Homo sapiens: one gene and its partners. The protein of the gene in region 3 purifies or fractionates together with the protein of the main gene of each other region. This does not show direct contact. Each region holds a gene or a part of one and is shown on either strand. Other genes may lie near its edges. The genes, in order: POGLUT1, HOXD13, F9, HELLS, SENP1, LRP5 and MCM8.

Evidence for each region.
Region 1: the proteins of F9 (region 3) and POGLUT1 purify together in Homo sapiens (affinity purification with mass spectrometry; 2 studies listed by BioGRID and IntAct, with this or other methods). This does not show direct contact.
Region 2: the proteins of F9 (region 3) and HOXD13 purify together in Homo sapiens (affinity purification with mass spectrometry; 2 studies listed by BioGRID and IntAct, with this or other methods). This does not show direct contact.
Region 4: the proteins of F9 (region 3) and HELLS purify together in Homo sapiens (affinity purification with mass spectrometry; 2 studies listed by BioGRID and IntAct, with this or other methods). This does not show direct contact.
Region 5: the proteins of F9 (region 3) and SENP1 purify together in Homo sapiens (affinity purification with mass spectrometry; 2 studies listed by BioGRID and IntAct, with this or other methods). This does not show direct contact.
Region 6: the proteins of F9 (region 3) and LRP5 purify together in Homo sapiens (affinity purification with mass spectrometry; 2 studies listed by BioGRID and IntAct, with this or other methods). This does not show direct contact.
Region 7: the proteins of F9 (region 3) and MCM8 purify together in Homo sapiens (affinity purification with mass spectrometry; 2 studies listed by BioGRID and IntAct, with this or other methods). This does not show direct contact.

Annotation. Positions count from the first base shown.
Region 1 is NC_000003.12:119,482,135-119,486,662, forward strand, and holds part of POGLUT1 (protein O-glucosyltransferase 1 precursor), read left to right. Parts: intron 1-3,193; coding exon 3,194-3,253; intron 3,254-4,528. UniProt on the Homo sapiens protein: Dual specificity glycosyltransferase that catalyzes the transfer of glucose and xylose from UDP-glucose and UDP-xylose, respectively, to a serine residue found in the consensus sequence of C-X-S-X-P-C.
Region 2 is NC_000002.12:176,091,002-176,096,099, reverse strand, and holds HOXD13 (homeobox protein Hox-D13), read right to left. Parts: upstream 3,380-5,098; 5' UTR 3,210-3,379; coding exon 2,429-3,209; intron 1,621-2,428; coding exon 1,370-1,620; 3' UTR 156-1,369; downstream 1-155. UniProt on the Homo sapiens protein: Sequence-specific transcription factor that binds gene promoters and activates their transcription. Part of a developmental regulatory system that provides cells with specific positional identities on the anterior-posterior axis.
Region 3 is NC_000023.11:139,528,800-139,534,044, forward strand, and holds the start of F9 (coagulation factor IX isoform 1 preproprotein), read left to right. Parts: upstream 1-1,939; 5' UTR 1,940-1,965; coding exon 1,966-2,053; intron 2,054-5,245. UniProt on the Homo sapiens protein: Factor IX is a vitamin K-dependent plasma protein that participates in the intrinsic pathway of blood coagulation by converting factor X to its active form in the presence of Ca(2+) ions, phospholipids, and factor VIIIa.
Region 4 is NC_000010.11:94,569,412-94,573,939, reverse strand, and holds part of HELLS (lymphoid-specific helicase), read right to left. Parts: exon of another isoform or gene 2,553-4,528; coding exon 2,511-2,552; exon of another isoform or gene 1-2,510. UniProt on the Homo sapiens protein: Plays an essential role in normal development and survival. Involved in regulation of the expansion or survival of lymphoid cells. Required for de novo or maintenance DNA methylation. May control silencing of the imprinted CDKN1C gene through DNA methylation.
Region 5 is NC_000012.12:48,041,956-48,045,325, reverse strand, and holds the end of SENP1 (sentrin-specific protease 1), read left to right. Parts: coding exon 1-4; 3' UTR 5-2,429; downstream 2,430-3,370. UniProt on the Homo sapiens protein: Protease that catalyzes two essential functions in the SUMO pathway.
Region 6 is NC_000011.10:68,410,091-68,413,590, reverse strand, and holds part of LRP5 (low-density lipoprotein receptor-related protein 5 isoform 1 precursor), read right to left. Parts: coding exon 3,451-3,500; intron 2,156-3,450; coding exon 1,971-2,155; intron 512-1,970; exon of another isoform or gene 331-511; coding exon of another isoform or gene 288-330; intron 1-287. UniProt on the Homo sapiens protein: Acts as a coreceptor with members of the frizzled family of seven-transmembrane spanning receptors to transduce signal by Wnt proteins.
Region 7 is NC_000020.11:5,956,671-5,961,198, forward strand, and holds part of MCM8 (DNA helicase MCM8), read left to right. Parts: intron 1-455; coding exon 456-559; intron 560-1,857; coding exon 1,858-2,056; intron 2,057-4,528. UniProt on the Homo sapiens protein: Component of the MCM8-MCM9 complex, a complex involved in the repair of double-stranded DNA breaks (DBSs) and DNA interstrand cross-links (ICLs) by homologous recombination (HR).

The DNA of each region.
Region 1 (4,528 bases), on a different chromosome or scaffold from region 3:
CCCCCCCTCCTCAGGTACTTGCAAATACCCTTTTCACATTCTTCTTTTTGTAGCTCTTTTCCCACCTGCCATGCAGCTGCTTTGTTTTCAAAATCTTTAAAAACATTTTTACTGATTATGAAACCTATATATGCTCATAAAATTTTACAAATATGTATAACTCAGGCAACTTTCCCCCTAACTTATTGGTGTATCTAAGTAATCTTTCCATGTCTTTGTTTCATGTCAGTACATATGAAAGAGTCACTTTATTTATTTGTTTGTTTGTTTATTTTTAAAAGGCAGGATCTCACTATGTTGCCCAGGCTGGACTCAAACTCCTGGGGTCAAGGTGTTATCCAGTTACTCCACCGTGTAGTTATTAATACCATTTTCCCCCAGGTAAACTAGTAAGCAATTTTTAGGCAGATAGAATGTTTTAAAGTCTAATCTTATATGAATACTTTTTTCTTTTGATACCTTCCCATTTTATTCAATTGAATTTATTCATGGTTATAGAAATACAATTTTGTTTTTTAGAACCCTCTGTTTAGAATCTCTAATGATGTTCATTTGTTACCTTGAAAATTTAATAATCTGCTTGTTTATCCATCTGCACTGATGTCTGCCTGCCACTGTTCATTCTATTTTTCTGATATTTTGGGAGTTTGTGCCCACTGATTTATATTTCACTCTGTAGAAGAATTCATTGTTCTTTACAGATCGAAGATTTCATTTGTTACTGTCAGAGAGGGTTTAAAAAAGAGGGCTGGGGTAGCACCAGGCTGTGGTGGCCACCGTTAGCACTTGCCTGGAGAAACAAGTCCTAACCTAGGTCTTTTGAGGGAGGATGGGTAGGTTAGGAGAATGAAAGAGAGAGAACAGTGATACACAGTTTGGGTTTGTGTATATGAAACACAGCTTCCCCAGGAGCCAAGGAAATAAAGAGAAGTAACTTTGAGTATAAATTGATACATGTTTTGTTAGATAGTTTGACAATATGTATCAAAATTGGAAATGTATACTGTGTATCCTTTGACCTAGCTGTTTCATGTCTAGAATGTATCCTAAGGAATTAATCAGATGAATGTGCAAAGATTTGTGTACAAGGATGTTTACTACCATGTTGTTTCTTAGAGCAGAAAGTTGGAAACTACCTAAAAGTCCATCAATAAAGGATGAAGTGAATCATAACATGACTATAAAATGGAATTTTTGCAGTGAGTCTTTGCCAGAGATTATAAAATGGAATATCGTGCATGAATGGAAAGGCAGTGTAGGTTTTAAAAACTCTGGGTTCAAATCCTGGCTCTTATTAGCTGCATGACTCTGTGCAAGTTGCTTAACCTCTAAAGGACCTCATTTGTAAAATAGGGGTGATAAAACCTACCTCTTAAGATTGTGAGAATGATTTTTTATTTACAAAGCACTTAAAACAATGTCTGTAACATAGTGAAGTGCTATATAGATGTTGGCTGTTATTATTATTTATATTTCCTATTAAGATTGTTACCTAACAGTATGTATGGTGTGACCTCTGTTACATAGAGCAAAGTTTCTCAGTACTAGTGTTGCTGACATTTGGGGCTGGATAATTCTTTGTCCTGGGAGCTGTCCTAACCACTGTAGGATTGTTCAGCAGCATTTCTGATCTTTACCCACTAAATGCCAGTAGCAGTCCCCTAGTAGTAACAATCAAAAATGTCTACAGACATGGCCAAATGTCCCCTGGGTGGGAGGGACGGGCAAAATTACCCCCAGTTGAAAGCTACTAATATGAATAAATGATTGCAAGGAAATTCTCGGCTAAAATGTTACATTGTTACCTCTGGACAGGGAGATTCCAGACGACTTCTTACTTTTATCTTTATGCTTTTTCATGAGAACTTTGCATGAGGAGCATGAAACATTTTCCACTAAAAACAAAACAACAAAAATCCAGTGCTATAGTGTCTCTGCTTGGGCAGGAAGAAGTATGGGGAAAACAAGATAGTTCTGGCCTTAGACTGGAGAATCAGGTAAAGGTGATCCATCCAGAAAAGGCCAGAGGATGAGCCACGTTGGCTGAGGGTGGAGGTCTGAGGGCCTGGAAAATACTGAGCAGCGTTCTCAGCTGAGTGAAAATGAGCAGCATGACATTATATGTATCTGAAAAGGACCTGTGCCTAGAAAGTTTATATCCTAAGTTTCTCCGTTACTGTAATCCAGCCCATCAATCCCTCATTAACTTCAGTTCAGCCTTCCCTTCCTTTTTCAGAGAAGATGCTGTGCAGACTTCTGTGCAGGGAGGGTTCCTACGAAGCAAGTTAAGAATGATGCATCTGTGAGCTAGCAGTTTCAGTAAGGAAGGCTGGTCATGGTAATGTGTACTGAGATCTGACTTTCAAGGACTTCATCTTTATAGAGCACTTAGTCTGGCTTTAAGAATACAAAGGTGCTTTTCAAATATCAAACTAAATCTGATGACACTTCCCACCTATGGAAAACATAAAATCAGAGAGTGATTTCCCTTTCATTCCATTTCTGATGCTTTTTTATTTTTTTGCAGTTCTGTACACATAATTAATTTCATCAGTAGCACCCTACTTAAAGTACAGAGGAAATCCACATTTGCCAAATTATAAACAGACCTAATCATGACCTTCAGGGTTTGGGGGCTTTTCTTTCAATGTTGTTAACTTGTTAATGGGGAGTAGATTTGTAGATACAACTGGGTAGCACCTCCAGAGCAATGAAATGGTAGCAAAAGGAAACAAAGTGTCCTTTAGGGCTTTTTCTTTTGAGTGACTTTGATTAGACTTACTTAGAAATATGAAGCTCTGGCCAGGCACAGTGGCTCACGCCTGTAATCCCAGCACTTTGGGAGGCCGAGGCAGGCGGATCACGAAGTCAGGAGATAGAGACCATCCTGGCTAACACGGTGAAACCCTGTCTCTACTAAAAAATACACAAAATTAGCCGGGCGTGGTGGCGGGCGCCTGTGGTCCCAGCTACTCAGGAGGCTGAGGCAGGAGAATGGCATGAACCCAGGAAGGGGAGCTTGCAGTCAGCCAAGATCGCGCCACTGCACTCCAGCCTGGACGACAGTGCGAGACTCCGTCTCAAAAAAAAAAAAGAAATATGAAGCTCTGAACTAATCTTCAGAAATGGTTAAAGCACATTCTTATATAGTTGAAAAAGATATATTGAAACTAATTAAATTCTATATTCTTAGGTCAGCAGCACAGTGGCCATGGAAAAAGAAAAACTCTACAGCATATTTCCGAGGATCAAGGTGAGTTATTTTCTGACATTTTACAAAGATATTCTTCCAAGTAATGTAAAATGTAAGTAACTTTGAGGGTATGACAAGCTCTGTAGTTCAAAGGGAAAGCTAAGATAACAAAGAAAGAAATGTGGAATCACAATTTTAGATTCGAGAATAATTCACATTATTTGCCGAAATCGCCATTGATTGAGTTGATATTCAAAGAAGTAAAGTTCATCCATTTCAGTCATTTAACAGATATTTTACATAGTGTCACAAATGTGTCGGTCATTGATTATGTGATGCCAAACACAACAGATGGGTGTCTTCTTACAGTCCCTAGGAGTAGCTTATGATCATGCCACGGTACTCTGCTGGTTAATGCAGAGCAGGACTCATCACCATATCTCTTGACTGCCTTTTTTATCACACCCTGTGGCTGCCAAATAGTGGTTAAGAGCACAGACTGAGACTGCTGAAAATGAAGAAGGGAGCAGGGAGGAAAGAGAAGAGAAAAATGGCAAAGGTAGTAGGAGGACCCTGTGTTGTTCAGCTCCATAGTCCCAAGGCCAAGAACAGTTCCTAGCATGTCAATATATGATAAATATCTGTGGAGCAGATGAATAGAAAAGACCATGAAGGGAGCAGGGTTTTGTAGTTTTAGCAAGTGAGTCCTTGCCAGAGATTATACTCCCTCTTCACCCTCCTCTTCACTTCGGAGCTAGACTTTAGGAGGTAAATGGATTATCCAGCTACTATGTCCTGTTTCTTACCAACTTCTCTGATTCTTAAATCTTGAAGTCACAAATTAACTTGGGGACCATGTCTGGACTTCAAGAGTTTTAGGACTCCCTTGAAATTATGTGAGGATATGTGCATTTTTCTGGGAAGGAGAGAGGGTTGGTTCATAGTTCTTAACAGATTATCAAGGAATCCATGATGCCTCACATGTCAAGACCCTCTGCTACTTGGAACATCACTAGAAATTCTTCCACATACAGTCGTCAGGTTTTTAAGCCCTTTGGTTTTTGTGCATTTTTTTTAAATTAAATATTATACTGGGCTGTACAGAGCATACATAACAAAGGTCATGTAGCTGTTTTAGTGAGTCGTGACTACCTAGCCTCACAGTTATGAGCACCAGTGATTATAGAAGCCACATGAACTTTCCTAAAAGGGAAATCATTCCCTGGGATTTGACTATAGTGACCTGAACAACATACCCTTCAAGACCAAATGCAAGCAAAGAAGGGCCAAGTACCCCCCAACCCTAAAGGTACAGAGGGGACCAGCCCTGGATGA
Region 2 (5,098 bases), on a different chromosome or scaffold from region 3:
GGAGAGCATGAAGGTTCCAGAAACCAGAATTAGTGTTGAGTTTCCTTCATCTATAGAGAACATAATTGTGTTCAAGATACCAAGATTTTGTAATAAATAAGAATCGTTTCAAGAAGAAACACAAACTTGAAAAAATAAAACAAATGTATAAGGACTCAGAAGAAACAAAAGAGTTCTGTTTATTGGCATCTCCCTAGGAGTAAAAAGTGATTTTTAAATGTCTGAAGCACTGCCCATGTATCCCAGCTCACAGACATTGCATTTACAAAAATAATCTCTCAATTGTATAAATATGCAGCACTTTAAAAGTAATTATTTATCATCACTTTCAGAAACATCATTATTTTTCTTCTTGGACCTTGGAACTTCACATTTTTCATATTTGTTAGATGCTTTACAGCTCCATGCGAGGCCCCCTTGTTTAGACAGTCAAGTTCTTCATTGGGTTCTGTATGTAAGTTCCCACCCACGGCCACATTGATTCAGCCTCTTTTTGAGGATTGAGGAGATGACCACAATCCCAGACCCATAGATCCAAGGCCAAGAAAAGGAGGTGCATTTATGCCATCCGCGGGTCACTCTACTGATTGCAGCCATTTAAATGTCTGCATTGAGAGCTCAAGAAATGAAGGCATCCACGATCCATGAGGACACATGAGTTTCAAATTAAAGATTATGAAAACACAAACCTACAAAGTGTTAAAAACAAACAATTAAAACAGCAAGTGAAACACCCAAAGTTGGAAAGATTGTCTTCATTTCAATATTGATACAATCCCTATTTAATAAGGTGGCCATTTTTAAAGCCATCACAGTACCTTCAGCCTCCTGTTTTTAGACTTTCTCGGTGACCCCAGAGCACTGCCTGCCTTTCCACTTGCCTCAGGGCAACTGCTGAGAGCTAATGATTCAATTACCTAATTACAGGATATGAACGACTGAAAACCATTCTGTCCTAATGGATTATGAAGATAATCAGTGCTGGGAATGAACAAATAAAGTAATTTTTTAAAAAAACCCTTAAATCAGAATGGCACTTCTGAAGTTCATTGGGGGGCGGATTATTAAAAAATACTTCAAGTCCCTTTATACTGGCCTGGAGGGAGAAACAAAACATTAAAAACAGATATTTTAAAAACCCTAGGCAAGAACAAAACCAATAATAAACAAGTAAAAATCAGAACTACAAAGTCAGGTTGGGCAGCAGAAGGTTTTAGAGCCAGATAAGGGGAAGAGAGAAAAACAATTCACAAAATTTGCCACCATTGGCAGGGGGTGGGGGGAATTAAATACATATTCAAGTCTTTCCAAAGGCCTTTTGGAGACAACCGAATGGCTTCTAAGCTGTCTGTGGCCAACCTGGACCACATCAGGAGACAGTATCTTTGAGCTTGGAGACAATTTTCTTGTCCTTCACTCTTCGGTTCTGAAACCAAATGGTCACTTGTCTCTCAGATAGGTTCGTAGCAGCCGAGATACGCCGCCGCTTGTCCTTGTTAATGAATTTGTTAATGGCATACTCGTTCTCCAGTTCTTTAAGCTGCAGTTTGGTGTAAGGCACTCTCTTCTTCCTCCCTCTTCGGTAGACGCACATGTCCGGCTGATTTAGAGCCACATCCCCTGATACAAACAAAAGCACAAGAAAAATTAGGCTGGGATATTCGGAGCACCTAGCTGAGGATTGTGTGTGTGTGTGTGTGTGTGTGTGTGTGTGCGTTTGCAGGGGTGCAGGAAATTTTTAAAAAATGCCATGCTGTTTGGTCTTTATTATGTACATAGACATAACACTTACCTGTTATTAAAGAAGGATTATTTGCACTTAACAACAATGGTTAATTTGATTGATTATCATAGTTTCTCAAACCGGCATCTTAACAAGCTTGCAATTTTATGGTGTGGTTATTGGGCACGTTCATGAGGACAGTTTCTGCAAATGTCGGTTGTATAAAAACAAACTTACATACATAGACACATACCAACTCAGGTCTTTTGCTCAAATTTTGATTTCCCGCGTTCCTATGTTAGGAGTTCGTGAGCTTGATCTAACAAGCTTTAGTAGTCATCTTGGGGCAGTGATGTCTTTGAAAATGGGGGGACCCAACTCTGTCAGGTTTCTTAGGAAAAAGTTCTCTTTAGGAGAAAAGGGAGAGGCCCAAGGAAAGGGCACGCAGAGACTCTCAACTTTAGGAGAAAAACGTGTCTGCGCTGCACACAGGAAAGAAAGGGCAGTGACGGAGGCAGTTGAAATCAGAGGAGGAATTTACAGATTTCACACGAACTGGACAAATTTCCACTGGGTTAACCCTGGTCACGTGTGGAGCACAGGCACAACTCCCACTCCCAAGTAGGGGCGCATACTCTTAGTCCTTTCTTTTCTCCTTCTCTCTCCCCCTCCCTCGTGTCGGTCCCTTTTCTCCATCGCCCCTACCTGGAAAGGAAGATTTCCAAAAGTGGGACCCCTGTGGCTGGTCCTTGGTGCAGTACACCTGGCTGTTCCACCCGTTAGCCAGCGTCCAGGACTGGTACCCCTCCATGGAGATGTAGGCCTCGTGCCGAGGCTCCCCGGAGCCGAAAGTGGACACCATGTCGATATAGCCGGGCACGTGCTGGTAAGGGCTCGTATAGCCCTGGTAGAAGGATACCTCCTTGGCTCGCGCTGGCACCTCGTTGGCCGGTACGCTGCTGCTCGCCAGGCCTGACACGTCCATGTACTTCTCCACGGGAAAGCCTCCCAGCGAGGCGTGCGGCGATGACTTGAGCGCATTCTGCTGTAAGCCCACGCCGTGCGACATACGGCAGCTGTAGTAGCCGTTGCCGAAGTGGTAGCCGTAGCCCAGCGCTGGAGCGCTCGGGGGCGCTGCAGCGGCCGCTGCAGGCGTGGGTGCTGGGCACTCTTTGGCTGGGGGAGCCTCCGGGCGCGCCGCTACAACGGCAGAAGAGGACGACGACGAGGAAGAGCCCGTGCGCTCAGAGGTCCCGGGGTACGCAAAGCCGGAGGCTGCCGCCGCCGCCGCCGCAGCCGCCGCTGCCGCCGCCGCCGCCCGCCCCGAATGCGTCCCGGCGAACACAGGCGCGGAGAGAAAGCCGCGGCACTGGCCTGACGCCGCCGCCGCCGCCACCGATGAGGAGGAGGAAGAGGCCGGGGCGCCACCGGCGCCCCCGCCGTCTGCCCGCAGCCCGTCCATGTCCCAGCTCCCGGCGCGGCTCATGGCCCGGCCTGGCCCGGCCCCGGCCCTGGCCCTGGCCCCGCGCAGGACACCATGGCGCGGCGCGCCTCCTCCCTCCTCTCCTTTCTCTCTGGTTCGCTCGCTCCCGCCCTCTTCCTCTAGCCCTCTCTCCCTCTGTGAGCCTCCCGCCTCCGGCCCGCCTGCCCTCCAACAGGTTAGCTCATCGCGGGACGTTTATAAAAACGAAGTTCAGGTTGGGAGGGGGCCTGGGCCGGTCGGGGGGCCGCCTCCCGCCCCGAGGGCCCCCGCCGGGGGCGTGCCATTGGCTGCGCGCGGCCACGTGGGGGTAGGAACGCGGGGGAGCCTGGCTCCCGGCCCAGGCCTGGCTGGACCCACCCACTCCGGCCCCCACCCCTCTCCTGCCCCTTGCAGGGTCCACCTCCCATTCCCGCCCTCCCCCCCGACCCAGGCGTACGCGCTGCAGCCACCCCCACGAGTTGATTGCGCGACGGCCCATCCCAGGCCCTGTCTGCGACTGAGGCGGGCGCCAAGGCCTGCGCCTTGTCTCGGCAACCGCTGTTTTTGCCACCTCTCCTCGGCTCCCCGAGTTGCACAGCAAAATGAAGACGAAGGACAGAGATGATCAGAATGATGTGAAAACAGGCCCATTTTTTTATCCTGTTGCTGAATCCCTCAGTTAGTCGACTTCTAGACCCCAAATCCGAGTGAGCTAATTTGCCCTACCTTGTGCACTGGTACCCGGCAAAGGCATTTCACACAGGTAAGAGGCATTGGAGCAGACCCTTCCTATACACACACGCTGTCCGTTCGGAAAATGCCCATGAAGCGCCCTTGGGGCTGGCGGCAGAGACTTAAACAGATGAAAGACAGGCATCGGCGCAGTGAGCCTGACAATCTGTCCCAGAAAGAAAAGTCCATGGATGCCTACTCAACGCTCTTCGCCTCTACTCTTGGGCCAGCCGGGAGTGCTTCCGACCTGGGCCTCTCAGCTCCCGCGGGTCCTTCTTCGACCCGCAGAAAGACCCTGAGAACGGCGCCGGGGGAGAAAGCCACTCAGCCTCCCACCGTGAAACTTCTGTGTCTCTCCAGCAGCCGACCGGCCTCGCATTTTGCAGTCACCACCCACTCCCGCCCGTTTCTCACACCAAATTAATTGAAAACTTCACTTTCCCAGGGACCTTTGTTTCGCTTCCTTTTCCAAGCTGTCAACTGCAGAGAACTGAGAGGGGCAAATTAAGAGGGCGCTTGTTCCAAGCAAATTCGGATTTTGTGATAGGAGCAGCCCAGAGAAACGGTCTGACTTCAAGGGGTTAGGTGGGCTCAGGGCAGTGCTGGTGGGGCTAGGTCCAGCTCTGGAACCAAGCTGCCAGGGTGTTAGGGATTACAGCCCTGTCCCTCATCATCCCTTTCTGTTGCTCCTCAGCCTCAGAGCTCCAGCCCACCATCCCTCAATCTCAGCAACTAATGGGGCACCAATGAGAGTCCTGCTGTGACTTTGGGGCTCTGCCTTAGGAACAATATTAGATCCAATGAGCCCAGGGTTCTGGGGGTGGATATGGGATCCTTCAGAGCCCATTTGGTTCTGTGGCATGCACTCCCCAAGCCAGCCCATCTCCAAGAAAATCACTCCCCTAAGCCTGTGATTGGTGAAAGCTTGTCACCCAGCACCACTGTTCCCCGACCAAAGATGCCCTGAGTAAGATGAGGAAGAGAGCCAGGAAGGCCCTCCTTGGCCTGGCCTGGCATTTCAGGGTAGGCTGCTGGTGTTAGGAGTGTTGACATGCAAAACGCAGTAACCATAAAAGGCTCAAATAAAGGGGAAAGTTATGAGAGGGGTGTTGGAAAGGAAAAGCAAGAGAATTCGTTTCATCGTTTTGAAGTTCTAGACATGTTCATGATCAAATTTGAGA
Region 3 (5,245 bases):
CTAATACCTAGAATCTAAAATGAACTCAAACAAATTTACAGAAAAAAACAAACAACCCCATCAACAAGTGGGTGAAGGATATGAACAGACACTTCTCAAAAGAAGACATTTATGCAGCCAACAGACACATGAAAAAATGCTCAGCATCACCGGCCATCAGAGAAATGCAAATCAAAACCACAATGAGATACCATCTCACACAAGTTAGAATGGCGATCATCAAAAACTCAGGAAGCAACAGGTGCTGGAGAGGATGTGGAGAAATAGGAACACTTTGACACTGTTGGTGGGACTGTAAACTAGTTCAACCATTGTGGAAGTCAGTGTGGCGATTCCTCAGGGATCTAGACCTAGAAATACCATCTGACCCAGCCATCCCATTATTGGGTATATACCCAAAGTATTATAAATCATGCTGCTATAAAGACACATGCACACGTATGTTTATTGCGGCACTTTTCACAATAGCAATGACTTGGAACCAACCCAAATGTCCAACAATGATAGACTGGATTAAGAAAATGTGGCACATATACACCATGGAATACTAGGCAGCCATAAAAAGAAAATGAGTTCATGTCCTTTGTAGGGACATGGATGAAGCTAGAAACCATCATTCTCAGCAAACTATCGCAAGGACAAAAAACCAAACACCGCATGTTCTCACTCATAGGTGGGAACTGAACAATGAGAACACTTGGACACAGGAAGGGGAACATCACACACCGGGGCCTGTTGTGGGGTGGGGGGTGAGGGGAGGGATAGCATTAGGGGATATACCTAATGCTAAATGACGAGTTAATGGGTACAGCACACCAACATGGCACATGTATACATATGTAACAAACCTGCTCGTTGTGCACATGTACCCTAAAACTTAAAGTATAATAATAAAAAAAAGATCATTCTAAAATTTATACAAGCCCTTAGAACAGTTAAAAATATCTTACCAAAAGAAGAATAAAGTTGGAGGAATCACTCTACCTAATATAAAGTCTTACTACATAGCTACAGTAATTATGACAGTGTTATATTGGCAGAGGGATAAATACATCAATGGCACAAAGAATAGATAGAGAAACTGGAAGTAGACCCAAAACAATATGGTTAACTGACTTACGAAAAAATTTCAGAAGCCATTCAATCGAGGAAGGATAGGGTGGTATTGTTGTTTTTTGTTTTAACAAATTGTGCTGGATAAATTGGACATACCTATGGAAAAAAAAATGAAGTTTGACTTAAACATCATACTTTACACAAATATTAACTCAAAATGGAGCATGGGCATAAATCTAAAACTTCAAACTGTAAAACATTTAGAAAAAAATAGGAAAAAAATCATCAGGATCTAGTGTTAGTGGAAGAGTTCTAAATGTGATCCATAAAACAAAAACAAATAAACTGGACTACATCAAAACTAAAAAATTCTACTCTGTGAAAGACCTAATTAAGAGGACAAAAGACAAGCTACAGGCTGGAGACAATATATTTAATCCACGTATCTATGAAAGGACTCATATCTAGAATATATAAACAACCTTAAGAATCTGACAGTAAAAAAAAAAAATCAGACTAACTGGACCACTCATACATTGCTGATGGAAATGTAAAGTGGTACAGCCATTTTGGTAAACATCATTGCTCTCTGACAAAGATACGGTGGGTCCCACTGATGAACTGTGCTGCCACAGTAAATGTAGCCACTATGCCTATCTCCATTCTGAAGATGTGTCACTTCCTGTTTCAGACTCAAATCAGCCACAGTGGCAGAAGCCCACGAAATCAGAGGTGAAATTTAATAATGACCACTGCCCATTCTCTTCACTTGTCCCAAGAGGCCATTGGAAATAGTCCAAAGACCCATTGAGGGAGATGGACATTATTTCCCAGAAGTAAATACAGCTCAGCTTGTACTTTGGTACAACTAATCGACCTTACCACTTTCACAATCTGCTAGCAAAGGTTATGCAGCGCGTGAACATGATCATGGCAGAATCACCAGGCCTCATCACCATCTGCCTTTTAGGATATCTACTCAGTGCTGAATGTACAGGTTTGTTTCCTTTTTTAAAATACATTGAGTATGCTTGCCTTTTAGATATAGAAATATCTGATGCTGTCTTCTTCACTAAATTTTGATTACATGATTTGACAGCAATATTGAAGAGTCTAACAGCCAGCACGCAGGTTGGTAAGTACTGGTTCTTTGTTAGCTAGGTTTTCTTCTTCTTCATTTTTAAAACTAAATAGATCGACAATGCTTATGATGCATTTATGTTTAATAAACACTGTTCAGTTCATGATTTGGTCATGTAATTCCTGTTAGAAAACATTCATCTCCTTGGTTTAAAAAAATTAAAAGTGGGAAAACAAAGAAATAGCAGAATATAGTGAAAAAAAATAACCACATTATTTTTGTTTGGACTTACCACTTTGAAATCAAAATGGGAAACAAAAGCACAAACAATGGCCTTATTTACACAAAAAGTCTGATTTTAAGATATATGACATTTCAAGGTTTCAGAAGTATGTAATGAGGTGTGTCTCTAATTTTTTAAATTATATATCTTCAATTTAAAGTTTTAGTTAAAACATAAAGATTAACCTTTCATTAGCAAGCTGTTAGTTATCACCAAAGCTTTTCATGGATTAGGAAAAAATCATTTTGTCTCTATGTCAAACATCTTGGAGTTGATATTTGGGGAAACACAATACTCAGTTGAGTTCCCTAGGGGAGAAAAGCAAGCTTAAGAATTGACATAAAGAGTAGGAAGTTAGCTAATGCAACATATATCACTTTGTTTTTTCACAACTACAGTGACTTTATGTATTTCCCAGAGGAAGGCATACAGGGAAGAAATTATCCCATTTGGACAAACAGCATGTTCTCACAGGAAGCATTTATCACACTTACTTGTCAACTTTCTAGAATCAAATCTAGTAGCTGACAGTACCAGGATCAGGGGTGCCAACCCTAAGCACCCCCAGAAAGCTGACTGGCCCTGTGGTTCCCACTCCAGACATGATGTCAGCTGTGAAATCAGACTGAAATGCTGAAATAACGATAAAAAAAAATACAGAGGTTAAACTAGCAAAGTGAGTAAAGTCAAGGGATAAAGAAAATTTGTTGGAAAACTCACAAAGCAGGACATAAAGCAAGGCCATTAGATATATCTCATTAGTGTGACATCTGGGAGGACAAAGCATCCAAACCCTTTCTTCTATATAAGTGGTGAGATGATGAAGGTTGTAAGAGGGCTTCTGCCCCCTTGAAGACTTCAGATGCTGGGGAAAGGATAGATAAGAATAAGGATGAACCAGGCTTTTGGAGCCTGGGAAATAATGACTAGCGATAAACCTGAAGGGAAGTTAAGTATACGATCCCCAGATAATACTAAGGAGAAAGGCAATGTGATTCTGCAGCCATTGTAGCCAGAGATAATAAGCCCTTGAGGAAGGGGCCAGGGGAATTTTTCTAAGGATAGACAGTATTAATGCAGCACTCTCTTCTGCTATTAAACTCTCATTGGCTTCTAAAAGGAGTTTCGGTGAGTGATTTGCTGAGATGTTGCATTTTCATGGCTGCTGCCTTTAGGTATTATTGCAACAGTTTGGAATTTTGAAATTAAAACAGTTCTGTAAAACCAGTTTAGTTTTGTAAAGTGTATGCATCAAAGATGTCCTTCATTCAGACATTACTGAGTTACAACTATGGTGCCAGGTACTGTGTCAGGGTACTAGGGGTATGGGGATAAACCAGACTCCCTCTTTGATCTAAAGCAGCATGAGGCCAGGTGAGAGGTTTCAATATAATGTGATAAAATGTGCACTAGGTACTAAGGGATCATAGAGAAAGGAACACATTAAATGGGGAAACAATTGATAGAGAGAGAATATTTTCATCTGGGTCTTAAAAGATGAGTAGGCGTTCTCTCTCTTTAAATGTCTGATATAAGGGCATTTTATGCAAAGAGGATCACTCGTGCAAAGACTCAGATTTGCAAGAACGTGAGGTATTTCAGGAGTTTTGTATGGTTCCATATGGACTATGACAAGTGAGACAGGTAAACTAGGCAGAGCTGGTCATCAGATAATGAAGTCATTAACCTAAGGAGATTGGACAATAAAATGCAATATGGAGGTATCGAAGTATAAACATAAGGAGTACCACTGATGGCTGATTTAGGATGCCCAGTCTGGCAACACGCTAATGAAATGATAGTGGGGGAGGGGGCCGTACCAAGACTAGGAGAGAGCAGTCCTGAGACTATTGCAATTATCTGCGGGAGACATAAAGGCTAGAACCTGAACAGTAGCAGTACAAAAAAAGAGGGGAGTTCAAATGATATTAAGGAAGTAGAAGTGGTATGACTTAACCATCTGGGTATGGAAGGGGAAATGGCTAGAGTCTTGGGGACTTTGTGTTTGATGTGATTATGGACCACAGAATAATGTCTAAGAGAACTGGCTCTTTAGTCTGACTGCCAGAGTCTGAATCCTGAATGTTTTAGTATGTTACCTTGGGCAAAGCCCTTAGCCTCTATGAATCTATCTTCCTCATTCATAAAAATAAGATGACAGTGCCTATCTCGTGGGACTTTTGTGAGGATGAAGTGAGATAATGGATGCAAAGTTACTGAGCACAGTGTCCAACACAGCAGAAGCATTACATATACATTAGCTATTACTGGCTACATTATGATATACAGTTAGGGAGTTGGAAAGATAATCTGAAATTCAGGAGACGTATCTGACTATAGGTGAGTATTTGGAACTCATTGTTCTGTAAACAGTAGTTACAGCCACGTGTGTGGGCATCTGGAGAGTGAGCATGGATATTGTGATACCTAGTACAGTGCCTGGCAGTAGTGGTTGTATGCTCAGTAAATTTTGTTGACAGGGTCAGGGCCGGACTAGACTGTGGTAAGCAAGGCCTGTAGGGCATAAATATACTTGTATGCCCCGAGAAGTGAGGACCTCTTAAATATTGTGCCCTACATGCCTTGTTTGGTTCACTCTTGTCCCAGCCCTAGCAAGTATATATAAGGTGAAAAAGGAAAAAGCTGAGGCTGGAGCCTGGGAGAACCCTGGACATTTAAGGGCCATGGAGAGGAACAGGAGTTAATCAATTCAAGTGCTGGATGGATAACAGGAGTTAGAGCAAAGCGGGGAACCAGAATAGAGTGATTATTATAAAAAGAGTTTCCTAAAAAGGGAGAGATCAACAATTAGAAATTATTTAGAG
Region 4 (4,528 bases), on a different chromosome or scaffold from region 3:
ATAAGATGTGTTATACAAAATGCTGCTGTATGCCACCATTTATCAGAAAATGCAACTAACAAAATCTACTGAGTCCTATAATCATTAAGTATAGAAGACTAAGATCACACCTGGATTAAAAAACTGGAGACATCGCCATCCCTCTACAAATGAAAAGCTACTAAAAAAAAAAATAACAGGCTGCCACAGTGGCTAATCCTACAATCACAGCACTTTGGGAAGCTGAGGCAGGAGGATCACCTGAGTCCAGGTATCCAAGACAACCCTGGACAACATGGCGAAACCCTGTGTCTACTAAAAATACAAAAAATTAGCTGGGTGTGGTTGCACGCAACTGCCTGTATCCCAGCTACTCGGGAGGCTGAGGATCACTTAAACCCAGGAAGTCAAGGCTGCAGTGAGCCATGAACACAGCCACTGCACTCCAGCCTGGGTGACAGAAGACTCCATCTCAAAAAATAAAATAAAATAAAATAAAATAAAATATAAAAATCTGAGAATAACCCTTACAAATTAAAATCAGGCACATACTTTTGAAAAGATCATTAGAATTGTATCTCTCTTCCAAACTTCTAATATTGTGATACTCAATAATTTATTAAACTGTTACACAGAAAATACAGTACGCATAAATAAGACGGGCAAAAGATATTAACAGATACTTTACAAAAGAAAACATACAGGCCGGGCATGGTGGCTCACGCCTGTAATCCCAGCATTTTGGGAGGCCAAGGCAGGCAGATCATGAGGTCAAGTGATCAAAACCATCCTGGCCAAAATGGTGACACACTGTCTCTACTAAAAATACAAAAATTAGCTGAACATGGTGGCATGAGCCTGTTGTCCCAGCTACTTGGGAGGCTGAGGCAGGAGAATCGCTTGAACCTGGGAGGCAGAGTTTACAGTGAGCCGAGATCGTGCCATTGCACTCCAGCCTGGGCGACAGAGTGACACTCCATCTCAAAAAAGAAAAAAAAAGAAAGAAAACATAGTTATCAAAGAACATAAAAATATACTCTACTTCAGTAGTAATTAGGAAAATGCAAGTTAAAAACCACACAAGTTACCATTTCTCATCTAATAAAATGGCTGAAATTAAAAAGACTATCAAATGCTGACAATAATGTAAGCTGGAGTTTTCAAACATTGCTGGCGAGAGAATAAAATGATGTGTTTACTTTGGGGGGGAAAATCTGTACTTTCTTATGAACACACATTTGCCACGTAACACAACAATACCATTCCCAGGTACACAGGCAGAAAGTATGAAAACATGTCTACACATGGACTTGTGTGCAAATTATCATAGCAACCTTACTCATAAAAGTCACAAACTGCAAACAACCCAAATGCCCATCAATAAGGGGATGGATGAGAAAATTGTAACATTCATTCAACAGAATACTAGTCAATAAGAAGAAACCGGTTACTAATATGCTCAACAACATAAATGAGTATCACAGACATGTTGAGTGGAAAGGAAATAATAAGCCATCCTATAAAAGGTGTAAAAAGTGGCCTCCTCTGGGTTTGGGGGTGGAAAGACATAGAAGAGATCCCTTTACAATGGAAATGTTCTATACCTTGATTTGGATGGTGGTTACACAAGTGTATGCAAGTGTCGAAATTCATTAAAATACCATACTTAACAACTATTTCTTACTGACTGTAAGTTATAAAATGAAGCCAAAATCCCATAGTAAATTACAGAAGATTACATCTAGACTTTATCTTAAAAATCCAACTAAATGTTTATCTAACTAAATCTTTAAAAATCCAACTAAACTGCACCCATAAACCAGTCCTTAATAACTTAACAAAGAATAAAAACCAAGACACTTTTACAATATAAATTTTGGACAAAATTATATGACCAAATAGATTATCTCTCATTTTATAAACATAACATTAATTTCCCAAAGGCCTAAAAATCTTTAATATGTAAATTAACTACCTGAAGTTCATATCCATTCATGAATATTTTCATGTCATGATTATTTTGCTTCCCTAGGCAACCTTGTAATTTTAAGTACTTGAACAATAAAAAGTCAGATAACAAGGAACCTCTCTACATGAAATGGGCTAAGTGAAGAGGTGGCTCGGAAATCAAGCCTTCTCAAACAGAACTTTTAAGAAACTTAAAAAATCTTTAAGGTCTGAAGCAAGATTAAGGCATCCCTCACAGCTTCCATAAGATGATTCACGGTTTATATCCACATGGTTACGAGCACTTGTATCACTGCCAGATTCACAAGTTAAAAGCAACATTGCTAGACCCATAAATTAACATTTATACATCAAGAATCATGCAATAAAACAACTAACTAAAGTTGATACATAAAAAAGAAGAATGTTGGATATGGAAGAAGTGAATACATAGGTATTTTTTTTTAAAGCAAAGAAACAGGATAATAGTGAGAAGAACGTATACTGCTGATTAAAGAAAAAGGACTAGTAACTGAGGAGTAAATATGACTTCTAAACTTAATCTTACATTATAAATTTCTTACCTCATTCTCCTTTTTATTTTTTTTAGCCACAGACAAAATTTCCTAGTAGTTTGAGAAAACAAAAACAAATTAATAATGTATGAAGTTCATTTATTTATTTATTCAACAAGCATTTATTCTGTGCTCATTTTGCCAGGAAATGAGGATGAGATTCTCAAGATAAAACTAGTAGCCTTCAGGCAGAAATAAGCCTATAGACATTACTGGCTCATAATATTTCATAACATTCTAGGCTAATTTGGGAACACTTATACAATGGGATATTTCATCAAATACAGTGATTTTCCAGCTTTTCTTTCTTTTAATCTGAGTAGATTAAGTACAAATTCACACATGGCAACAAACCTCTAGTCCTGGGGTCAGCAAACTACAGCCTGTAGACCAACTCCAGCTAAGCGAATACACAGGTATTTTTTTAAAAGCAAAGAAATGGGATAAATTGGAACAAAGTCAGCCTCACTTGTTTACGGTTTGTCTATGGCTGCTTTCAAGCAACAACAGCAGAGTACAGGGTTGAGTAGTTGCCCACAAAACTACTCAAAAGCTAAAAATATTTACTATCTGGCTATTTACAGAAAAAGTTTGCCAAACCATGTTACAGCCCACTTTAGGCCTCTGTGGATAGACATCTGAGTTTGCATTCCTGGGTAAGAGGCAAAGACAGAAAAAATTAAAAATACAGAATAAAGTGCTCTGATTTTGAAGTACCTACTAGATGCTGCTGGTAGGGAGACAAACAATACCCGAGTATGTCACTGGATGACTTAGCAAATAATTATCTTACATAAAATTATCTAAAAAGTTGTCACCAGGCTTCATCATTCAAGATAGTGAGGGTAGATTTCAAGCAGAGAGAATATAGAAGGCATAGGGGATGAAGTAGATTCAAAACAGCAATATCAAATTTAAGATTCATAGAAGAGTAACAGGACATGTAAGTGGCTGACACACACACATATATATACATGGGAATATATGTATATCGTGTGTGTATGAAGTATTATGTATGTATAGATATTCATATTATAAGGCTGAGGCTAAAAGGATTTTATACCAGGAACTGATAAAAGCTGTCCTGTAAAATGACTAGATAAAATGAAACTTTTGAAAGAACAATTTGGAAATAAATCAAAATCTATAAATACCACCAATGAAGTATTCTTATTAAAAATCAAGCATGGGCAACATGGTGAGATCCCATCTCTACAAAAAATATAAATGTTGGCTGGGCTTGGTGGTACACGCCTGTAGTCCCAGCTACTCAGGAGGATGAGGTGGGAGGATTGCTTGAGCCCAGCAATCAGAGGTTCAATGAGCCGAGATGGCACCACTGCACTCCACCCTGGGCAACAGAGAAAGATCTTGTCTCCCAAAAAAAAATAAAAATAAAAAAAAAAATAAAAAAACACCTTAATCACAAACTTCCGTATTTAACTTATAGTTACTATAGTTAACAGGAAACACAAGAGGCAGAGAAATCATGGGGATACAATCAGTAAAGTCTAGAATGTGGGGAATTATACAGAATTACTCATTTTCTTCAACAAATAATGTTTCTTAAAAAAGATGAGAGACACTCTAGATCTAAAAGAGACCCAAGATACGCATTAATCAAACACAATTTATGTAACTTTTTCGGATCCTGATTTGAACCAACTATTTTTTTAAAATGTATGAGCTAAGCAGATCACAGCGGTAAGTGCCTATAGTCCCTGCACTACTACTCGGGACACTGAGGCAGGAGGATCATGTGAGCCCAGGTGTTTGAGGTGTAGTCACTATGACAATACTCAGGAATAGCCACTGCACTCCAGTCTCGTCAATACAGCAAGCCCCCATCCCTAAAAATAAAAATTAGCCTATTGAGAAATTTAAATATTAAGGAATTCCCATCGACTTTCAAAAGTGTGGTAACTGTATTGTGGTTATGGTTCTAAAAAATAGTCTTGGCCGGGCATGGTGGCTCAAGCCTGTAATCCCAGCACTTTGGGAGGCCAAGTCAGGCAAATCACAAGGTC
Region 5 (3,370 bases), on a different chromosome or scaffold from region 3:
GTGAAGACTGTCTCACTTAGCAGACCTTGACCATGTGGGGGACCAGCTCTTTGTTGTCTACAGCCAGAGACCTTGGAAACAGCTGCTCCCAGCCCTCTGCTGTTGTAACACCCTTGATCCTGGACCAGGCCCTGGCGAGATGCATTCACAAGCACATCTGCCTTTCCTTTTGTATCTCAGATACTATTTTTGCAAAGAAACTTTGGTGCTGTGAAAGGGGTGAGGGACATCCCTAAGCTGAAGAGAGAGACTGCTTTTCACTTCTTCAGTTCTGCCATCTTGTTTTCAAAGGGCTCCAGCCTCACTCAGTCCCTAATTATGGGACTGAGAAAAGCTTGGAAAGAATCTTGGTTTCATATAAATTCTTGTTGTTAGGCCTTACTAAGAAGTAGGAAAGGGCATGGGCAAAAGGTAGGGATAAAAACCACCAGCATATACATGGACATACACACACACCCACACACACAAACACACACACACACACAATTTTCACGATGTATGGTCAGGAATGTGACTGTAAACTGGACTTTGGGGCCCAGGCATAAGTCCCTTCCTCCAGGACCTTTCCTATTTATATGTCCCTATACAAAATCCATCTGCTTTTATACGTAGCTGTTTTATCATCTGTAGCTTCATCCTATCCGGAGGCACAGCACATGAGCCCTGGACAGGTCCCAAAGTTCCAAGCAGTCCTTTCCGTGAAAGCAGGGGTTTGCATGTGCTACCAACACATGATACGGGGAAGACCCACCCAGGGAGCGGTTTCAGTGGCGCAACAAAGCACCACTTTTACTGTTGCCTACTTCTGACCAAGAAGAAAAAGGACCTTAGTATTTAGCATAAAATTCCAGCGCTGGATGAATGCAGATCTAGTTTGGTCTGTGGCTAGTTTAAATATGTTTCTAACCACAGAGAATTTCATATATATATACATATATATATACACATACATATATATATATATATATGTATGTATAAAATTTCACAGGGATATGCTTTTTTTTTTAAAGACTGAATGTGTTCACCATTTAGCCTGTAGATTTATTTCCATTTTCCAAATTCCAGCACACAGAGATCCCAGCCCCTATGAGTAGGGTGTTTGTGGACTACCTAATGGAATATTTTTGAGGCCTGGATGAACTTTGCCATATGGGTAGAGGTTACAGAGGGAGGTGATATTTTCAGCTAAAAAAAAAAACGGGTGGAGTTTGGACTGATCAACTTGAGATTTAAAAACTGCTATTCCTTTTGTTCTTTCTAGCATCTCTCCCCACCCTCTGAGAGCTCCTCAGGCTTAGATAGTGAAGTGATCAAATGCCAGTGTCATTTTGTACTTAAGTTCCAAAGTAGGAACATTTTATACTTTTTTCTGTATTGTAATAGGTAGTTTTGTATGAAATCTTTTCTCCTCTCCCGTTGTACCGCATTCTTTCCAGCATTGTGCTTTTTCCCTGGGCTTATTTGAAAATTTTACTGTTTTATACAAGCTCGTTTAGTACATTTTTCTATGTTTTACCACAAGTTACAATTTGAAAAGAAAACTATTTTTTTTAAATATTCCATTGTTAACTGAATGTTACTGTTTCCACTCCAGCAACTACATGTCCTCCCTTCAACTGCCTGCCTTTTGGGGAAAGACCACCTTTTGTGTGTTTGTTTTTTCTCTCTCTTTCTTTCCCTTTCTCTTTCTATCTCTCTTTATTTTTCTTTCTTTTTCTTTGTTTTTGAGTTTTCTATAGGAAATAAATAGCTTTCTATATATGAGTTGCTGGGGACCTTCACATTCTCTTTTAGAAAGCTGTGGCATGCAGTCTCATTGCAGGACTCCTGGAATATTGTCTGGTTCTTGGTATTTACTGTATGTAAGCAACAACTTGAAAGGTGGCAATATGGTGTCGATTTGGACTATGAATCAAAAGACCTTTTTCAGGTTCTTTCACTATTGTCTGGGGGACTCAGAACAAGATTGTTCTCTGTATTTATTGTTTGTCCATTTAGGTAACATCTGTCTTACCTTCCTCACAGACTTTGTACAGACCAAAGCAACAAATATTTATTGCCATGTATAGCAGAAAATGAAACATGCAACAAAAGCACTTTGAAAAATATATAAGGAATTGTTGAGCCTGTCTGAATTTGGGCCCCCTTTCTGACTAATGCAGTTTTGCACAAGGTAGAAGTTAGTGACCCTGAGACCATCTTACCACCCTGGACCTGGTCCAAATACAGACTTACACAGTGGACCATTCTTTCCTGAGCTAGCCAACAAGAGCAGGAGTAGTATCTGGAAACTTTCCCCTTTGTTTAGGGGTAGGCTTTGATGACCAGGAAAAAAAAAAAGGTATTTCTGCATTTTATGGCCCAAAGGCATGTTATTAATATCTTATGTAATTTACTTTAAACTAAATAAGACTTTTTTCTCCTGTGTTCCCCTTTCTCCTGTGTCCACTGCTCATATTCACCTGCCTTCCCTAAAAAAGGAATATTTGAGGGATGATAAGCACTAGATGCCAGCTATAGAGACCTCAACAGAAACCATAATCCCAAGAATCACTCCGAGACCCTGAACAGAGAATATCAGACAGACCTTTCTTACCCATTTGAGAAACACATGGTCTGAGGCACAGAGGCTAGTTACATCCCATTTGTCACCTGGGACCCACCATTGCTCCCAGGAGTCCTATTTAGGGTTGAATATAAGAGTACTTTTCCCTCATCCAGTCTGGGGAATTTGTGTCAATTGACTCCTCTGTATGAGATGCTTCATACTTCTATGTGGAATTAATTTCTGTATTCTTTAGCCACTGTAATCATGCTAGCATCTTCTATCCACTGCCCCCAGCAATGTTAGCACCAAGATCCTGAGGTAGAAACAGAGATAACCTGGAAAAGCACTTCCACCAACCCCATCTCATAGCCTGTCCATTACTGCCTGGTTTTACATGGCCCTTAAGTGGCTCTAGTGGGTAAAGGGGGAAGAGTTCACTTGAGAGCCCCAATGTTTTTAATGTTTCAGTTTCTGGTCCTGTGCCATCCCTCCAGCTTTTAAATATGTCTTGCTGGAGTAAGAGAGAGGACTGACACCTGGGGTTTCTTTTTGTTTGGTCCACCTGGATGGACTAGCATGAGGTGGAATATGATGCTTTCACCCTGGGAGTTCACATACCCAAGAGAGTCAGAAAAAGAGGTGTTAGGCTATTAGGCCCTATTGTTAAACAGGCCACGTGCTGAACTACTGGGAAGGGTACCTTATTTTCCCGCCCAGGAGCAATGCATCTACAGCTTGGAATTCCATGGGAAGGGACAAGGCTCATCCCAGCATCCTTTATTATAAGTCTAGGGCCTTGTTTTACCTGTACTGACTCCTAAC
Region 6 (3,500 bases), on a different chromosome or scaffold from region 3:
TAGCGACCACATGAATGCCTTAAAGTGTTTGGCCACCTTGGAAAACCAGCAAGATCCACTGAAGCGCAGGCAGGATCTAGCAAAATTAAGTGACCTGGCTACAGTCACACAGTTGCTAAGTGGCAGGGCCAGGATTACCACCCAGGCAGCGAGACTCCAGGTTCTTGTTCTCATCATGTCAGGCCTGGCTGTGCATCCTTCACTCCCACAGCAATGAGACCAGGCCTTCCATGTTATTAATCAAGCACTCAGTAAACATCCGGAGCGTTTAAGTCCAAAACACGTACCGAGGAGTGACGGCCAGGCTGCAATGCACATGGCCGCCCTCATTGGCAGGGTCACATGAGTTTCCAGGGCTTTTGCTGGTTTTCATCTGAGTCTGTCCTCACTCCGGGGTGATTAATGAGCTTAATCATTTCAGGCAACCACAGCTGTGCGGTGACTGGTTTCTCGCCTGGCAACAGGTTTGCATGCGGCCTGGATGAGCTGGGTCACGGGATGTGCTGCAGAGCTGGGTGACGGTCACGAAGTCACGTGCAAACCTTGCTACTGGCCTCACAAGTCAGGGTGCAGCCCACCCCCAGCGACAACCAGGACACGGGGTTCAACTGCCAGCTCTGCCTACGCAGTACCTGGGACAAGGCATTCAGCTGGTCGATGCCCCAGCCTCCTCATCTGTAAAATGGGCACAACCACACCCAGTGCAGATGGCGAGTAGGAGAGGCAGAGGTCAGAAGCCAAATTCTTGCTGCCCTTCCTGAGCGGTTCGACATGGCTGACGTGCTCAGAGGCTCTCCTAGGGCCAAGGTCACTGAAGGTCCCTTTGCCAGGGGACAAAAGTCAGGGCTGCCCAGGTGACCCTCTCCTCCCTTGTCTGCCCTCAAGCCAAGGGGTGCCTGGGGACTTGGAGCCTCAGAGCTTCTTTTTCTTCTTCTTTTTTTTTTTTTGGAGACGGTCTCACTCTATTGCCCAGGCTGGAGTGCAGTGGCATGATCACAGCTCACCACAACCTCAACCTCCTGGGCTCAAGCAATCCTCCCACCTGAGCCTCCCAAGTAGCTTGGACTACAGGCATGAACCACCATGCCCAGCTAATTTTTAAAAAATTTTTTTGTAGAGATGGCGTCTCACTACATTACCCAGGCTGATCTTGAACTCCTGGGCTCAAATCATCTGCCCGCCTTGGCCTCACAAAGTGCTGGGATTAGAGGTGTCAGCCACTGCACCTGGCCCTTCAGAGCTTCTGCCCCTGACCTTCTAGTCTCCCAACTTGGCAGGGGGGATGGGGGTTCCTTTGTTAAGCACAGTTGCCCCTGTCACCTGCCATATCACCCAGGACAGCTAACTACTCTAGCAGAACAGAGTGTGCGGTCCCCTTTTCTGGGTTCAAATCCTGCTCCTGTTGCTGTGTGACTTGGGATAGGTTTTTTTCAAACTTCCCTGAGCCTCATTCTCATGATCTGGAAAAAGGAGATGAGAGCACCAGCCCTGGGGTCCCGGGCGTGTGGACACTCCCAGCACAATCCCAGCACATGGTGGGGTTCAGGGCTGGGTGGGGATCGAGTGCTGGCCCTGGTATCTCTGGGGGATCCTGAACTCACCAGCTATGTGACCTAAGGCAAGTCATGTGCTCAGGCCTCAGCTTCCCCAGCAATGAAAACCACCATGTGTGTTAGGGTGAAATTAGAGTCCTGGCACAGGGATTAGCTGGGACCTAGTGCCCAGCAGGTGCACAGGAAACAGCTGTCACCAGAGCCTCTCCCGACATAACTGCAGCAAAGGCACCCAGGGGTGGACGGGGACAACTCCCACAGCAGAGGGTGAGGCTGCTGGGCAGTCGTGGGTGTGGCCACAGCTCCTGCCAGGTTGGGGAACTTGCAGGCCACAGGGTATGTGCGGCGAGGCTGGGAGGTGGCCAACGCCCGGCTGCCCCGCCCTCCATGACCAGAAGGCCCCAGCCCGGCCCTCACCCAGCATGTTGGACGACTCGATCATGTTGGTGTCCAGGTCGGTCCAGTAGAGGCGCTGGTCAGCGTAGTCAATGGTGAGGTCGTTGGCCCGGCCCACCTTGTCCACCAGCGTCATGCAGTTGGTCCCGTCCATGAAGGCCCGCACGATCCTCGGCTTGCCGCCCCACTCGGTCCAGTAGATGTAGCTGGAAGGCACAAGGGAGAAGGGCAGGCTCAGTGAGTCTGCTCTCACCGCAGGACAGTGGGTGGCGGGGGGACGCAACTGTCCCCACCTCTTCAGCTCAGCCCTCCCCGTCCTGGAGAAAGCCACGCGCAGGAAGCAGGGAAGGGCGAGACCCTCGACCCCTGCCACACACATATCCCTCCAGGGGTGGTCACTGCGCCACCTCCCTGAATTCCCACAGTGGCTCACTCGTAAGGCGAGTAAATACCCACTTACGGACACAAAAACAGATGCACAGACAGGGTGAGTGTGTGCTGGAACATCCACCTAAGCTTGGCCGGATGTTGGGGACACGGCAGAAACCAGGATGGACACAAGCACATCACAAAACAAGACCTCAGGGCAGGGGAGGCCTTGCGGGATCCGGATGTAAACTCGGCTCTGGGCTCCTCCCCCAGCAGCCCCTCCTTCCCTCTTCTTTTAGCAGATCCAGAAGAGGAAATGCACATCCTCATTCCAGAATTTTCTAAGTTTGACCTGCCCTTGCTCTAAAACCTGGACCTCTTTCTGTTGTCCTGCCATCCTGAAGTCTTCCTTCCTTCCCTAGCAGAACAGGCGACAGGCAGGGATTGGGCTGCTGCACACATCACAGGTGCTTTAAGGGGTGAGCACTGTGTCCACCACACAGAAAAGAAAACTCAAGTCCAGAAAGACGCCCCACACATCTGGGGCCTGTCTGAACCCCGTGCCCAAGGCAGGGCCCCCAGGACGCCTGGCAGCTCAAAGCACATTTGCCTCTCGAGGTGGGTCCTAAGCTGTGGCTCAGCAGCCTCCAAGAGGCCATTTCGGAGGAGCCTGAGGTCCGGGGACCTCAAAGTCAGTTCTGGATCATGGTTTTGGCAAGAGTGCAAAGCAAGGAGACCTGGTCAGGAGCCTGAGACAGCACTTCCTGGCCCAGCTCTGCTCTAACTGGGTATGTGACCTTAGGGAAGTCACTCGGTTTCTCTGAGCCTGTTTCTGCATCTGTAAAATCGACACAGATACCCACCCTACGCAGGCTCCATGGACACTTCGGTGAGACGGCCCAGGTGAAAGCAGCCAGCACTGTGCCTGATACAGCCTCAGCACCCGCTCCACGAAGGAACTCCATGACCTCTGAGGGCCCTACCAGTCCTGGCCACCATCAAGGCTAATGACGTCAGTACAGCTCTAATCACCGAGGGCCACACGGACAGCCTGCCACCTTGCCCAGTTGGCACCCCCGCACTGTCTCATACGAGGTGAACACAAGGACGCACGGGACAGGCAAACACTTACCCCTTGGTGGGATCCAGGGCCAGCGACCTCGGGTTGTCCAAGTCCCTCCA
Region 7 (4,528 bases), on a different chromosome or scaffold from region 3:
GGTGTGAGCCACTGCGCCCAGCGTGTTTATATTATTTAATGTTAAATGCCAAGGGAGTGAGTATTAGGTATTTTAAAGGTCATTTTTATTTTCTGTGTCTTGATTGGTCAGTGAATATAGAGAAATAGGAATGCATTTTTTTTTTTTTAATTAGTATCAAGAGGTGATGGTTTTGGGGACTAATGTAAGGGCTTTTAATGTTAGGTTTAGTTGGGACAGAAAGTAGCAGACTGGGATGCTGGAGTTTTTCAGCACAGGGACAGCAAAATCCAATGTAAAACATCCACTATAAAGTAAGTAGTCATAATTAAATATTAGATATTTAAAGGGCTGTTAAAGTTTTCTGTTTTTATTCTGTTTCTGTCCATAAACTTTATATTCTCTATAAAAATAGAGTTCTGTATAAAGAGGATGTTTTGTTTTCCAACTTCAGAGTAAATGTCTGTCCTGTTTAGGTGTTAACTAAGGACCTTGAAAGGCATGCAGCTGAGTTACAAGCCCAGGAAGGATTGTCTAATGATGGAGAAACAATGGTAAATGTGCCACATATTCATGCAAGGTGAGGAATTTGATGTATTAAAGTATTACTTAGAATGGGACATTGAAGGCCATTTAAGAATGAAAACGCTCATTTTATAAAAATGAGGAAATCAGTAAAAAGGACATGAGTTCCTTGCCATCTCATTGATCATCACACTGAAATAAACTCATTGAAAATTATTCAAAGACATCATGACAGATACTTCCTAAATAAGGAAGAAAATGTTGATTTCCTAACCTGCAGATTTTTGTAAACATTGGTTTTGGATGTGAACTTATCAAGACCCTGCTGTGTAAGTTTAATAATCCATGTATGGGTTGAGTATCCCTAATCTGAAAATCTGAAATCTGAAATGCTCCAAAATTCAAAACTTTGAGCCCTGACACGACACTGAAAGGAAATGTTCATTGGAGCACTTCAGATTTTTGAATTAGAGATACTCAACTAGTAATATTGCAAATATTTGGAAGTCCAAAAATTCCAAAATACTTCTGGTCCCAGGCATTTTGGATAAGGGATATACTCAGTCTGTAATACACTAAGTGTTCTTTGTTAAATTATTAGGTTTTTGTTAGATACAAGGGAATAATGAAATTATTTTGTTTTTCTTGAATTCATCTTTAAGATTTTAAATTCATTAGAAGAATTCATTATAAGGTAATCATCAGCATTTTGTTTTTCTTTTCCAGAATTTATAGAAGAAAATTTCCTAGCAGTTCTTTAAAAAGAACTTAGAAACCCAAAGGTTTTTGAATCTGTAGATTTTCCTTTTGGCATTATTTTTTTCCTTAAATTTCTTTTTTCTTTTTTCCTTGAGAACAGCCTGTGAGACAAGAAGAAAAAGGAAGATTTAGTGTTGTTTCTTGTTAAGAATGGTTTGGCTGGGCACGGTGGCTCATGCCTGTAATCCCAGCACTGGGAGTCCGAGGCAGGCGGATCACGAGGTCAAGCGATCGAGACCATCCTGGCCAACATGGTGAAACCCTGTCTCTACTAAAAATACAAAAATTAGCTGGGTGTGGTGGCACACACCTGTAGTCCCAGCTACTCGGGAGACTGAGGCAGGAGAATCACTTGAACCCGGGAGGCAGTGGTTGCAGTGAGCCAAGATGGCACCCCTGCACTCCAGCCTGGCAACAGAGCGAGACTCCATCTCAAGAAAACAAAACACAACAAGAATGGTTTAATTCTTGTGATATTTCTGATATATCGAAGGGATGATTTGATTTGAGAATTCCATAGTTGCTCCTAAAAGGAACTTGTGAAAATATAAAAAACATCAATTTTCTGTTCATTACTTCCTGTTTTGTCTTTAGGGTGTACAACTATGAGCCTTTGACACAGCTCAAGAATGTCAGAGCAAATTACTATGGAAAATACATTGCTCTAAGAGGGACAGTGGTTCGTGTCAGTAATATAAAGCCTCTTTGCACCAAGATGGCTTTTCTTTGTGCTGCATGTGGAGAAATTCAGAGCTTTCCTCTTCCAGATGGAAAATACAGTCTTCCCACAAAGGTAATACGTTCTTTAACTGCTTCTTTATTTATCTTGGTAAAGAAGGCAAATCAGAATACAGAAAACATTTCCCAGTGTTTCTGAACACAGAGCTTATTTTTATTTTTTATTTTCAATTTTCTGCTTTTATATTATGAAATACTTCAGGGTAAGAAAAATACAGAAATAAATAAAACATTCCACTACTCATCACCCCGAATTTACATTTTTCAGCTCCGGACACATTTTTTAATGATATAAAGCATTACTGGCACAATTAGTGTCTGTTTTTTACCTATACCATTCCCAGGGATGATCATTATCCTGAAGTTATTATAATATGCATCCCTTCCATTCATATTTCTGTTGACTTCTAGGTATACACACCAAGTTTTTTTTCCCCTTTATTTCTTCTACTATTTAGAAGTGATGGGTTTTTTAAATCTTTATTAGCCTTTATTAAACTGGATTTTAAAACTATAGAAAAGTGCAGAGAATAATGTAATTAACATTTATCTACTCTATGATTTGGCAAATATTAATATTATTTTAGCTTAATTTGTAACAAAAATATGGTTATATAAAGTTGAAGTCTTTCTGTTCTCAGTTTTATTCCCTTTATTTGCTCCCTAGATGCAACCACTATGCTGAAATTGGCATGTATTCTTCAAGTTTACATTTTTATTCTTGACTACATGTGTAGAGTTAGTTTTTTGTATTGTGTTTACGTAAATGGTATCCTGAATGTAACACGCAGCTGTTTTTTTATTTGGTTATTTTGTAGTTCTACCTATTTTAATACATATCAAATTCTTTCATTTTTACTATTGTGGAGTGTTGCTTTAAATAAATAGCCACAATTTATCCATTTTCCTGGAGGTAGACAATTGTGCTCTTTCCAGTTTTTTATAAGAACAAATGATACTGCAGAGAACATTCTTGTACATGTCTCCTTAGCAGAGGAATACTAAGTTGTAGGCTGTACTTTTTTTTTTTTTTTTTTTTTTTTTTGAGACGGAGTCTCGCTCTGTTGCCCGGGCTGGAGTGCAGTGGCGCGATCTTGGCTCACCGCAACCTCCGCCTCCTGGGTTCAAGCAGTTCTCCTGCCTCAGCCTCTCGAGTAGCTGGGACTACAGGCACGCGCCACCATGCCTGGCTAATTTTTGTATTTTTGGTAGAGACAAGGTTTCACTATGTTGGCCAGGCTGTTCTCAAACTCCTGACCTGGTGATCCGCCTGCCTCAGCCTCCCAGAGTGCTGGGATTGGCCGGCTGTACTTATTTTTAACTGTATTAGATGTTACCAAATTACTTTCCAGAGTATTGTTCCCAACTTAAATCTTTGCTGGTAGTGTTAAGTAGTTACCATTTCTCTGTCTTTTCATTAACACTTGGTATTGTTAGACTTGTACATTTTTGACAGTTTGTTAGGTATAAATAATACTGCATTTATAATGTGAATTTTTCTGATTTCTGTTGTGGTTGAGCATCTTTTCATATCTTTACTGGCCATTCAGTTTCTTTATCGAATTTTCTATTTATATCTAATGTTCATTTTCCTGTTTATTGGTTTATTCTTTAATTTTGTTTTTTAGAGATGGGGTCTCATTCTGTTGCCCAGGCTGGAGTGTAGTGACATGATCATAGCTCATTACAACCTTGAACTCCTGGGCTCAGGTGATCTTCCCATCTCAGCTTCCCACGTAGTTGGGACTACAGGTGCCAGCCACTGTGCCTGGTTCTATTAGTTTATTGATAGGAGTTCTTTATACATTCTAGATACTAATTATTGTTGATTATATACATTAGATATTTTCTCCCAGTCTTTGGTTTGTCTTTTAACTTTGTGGGTTTTTTTGTTGTACAGTTTTACATTTTGACATGATCAAATTGTTGTCTTTTCCTCCCTAATTTGTATATTTTATGCCCTGCTTAAGAAGCCGTTCTTCGGCTGGGCTTGGTGGCTCATGCCTGTAATCTCAGCACTTTGGGAGGCCGAGGCGGGCAGATCACCTGAGGTCAGGAGTTGAAGACCAGCCTGACCAACAGGGAGAGACCCCATCTCTACTAAAAATTCTAAATTAGCCAGACGTGGTGGCACATGCCTGTAATCCAAGCTACTCGGGAGGCTGAGGCCGGAGAATCGCTTGAACCCAAGAGGCAGAGGTTGCAGTGAGCCGAGATCACGCCATTGCACTCCAGCTTGGGCAGTAAGAGCGAAACTCCGCCTCAAAAAATACATAAATAAATAAGAAGCCCTTTTCACTCAAGCATTATAAACATATTTCCTACATTGCTTCTAAGAATCCTAAGTTTTGTTTTTTATCTTTAGATCTTTTGTCCATCTGGAATTTAAGCCATTGGTGAAGGGCATAAAACTAGGGATTTAAGCTGGGCATGGTGGCATATGCCTGTAGTCCCAACTACTCAGTAGTCTGAGGCAGGAGGATCGCTTGAGCCCTGGAGTTTGAGACTAGCCTGGGCAGCATAGTGA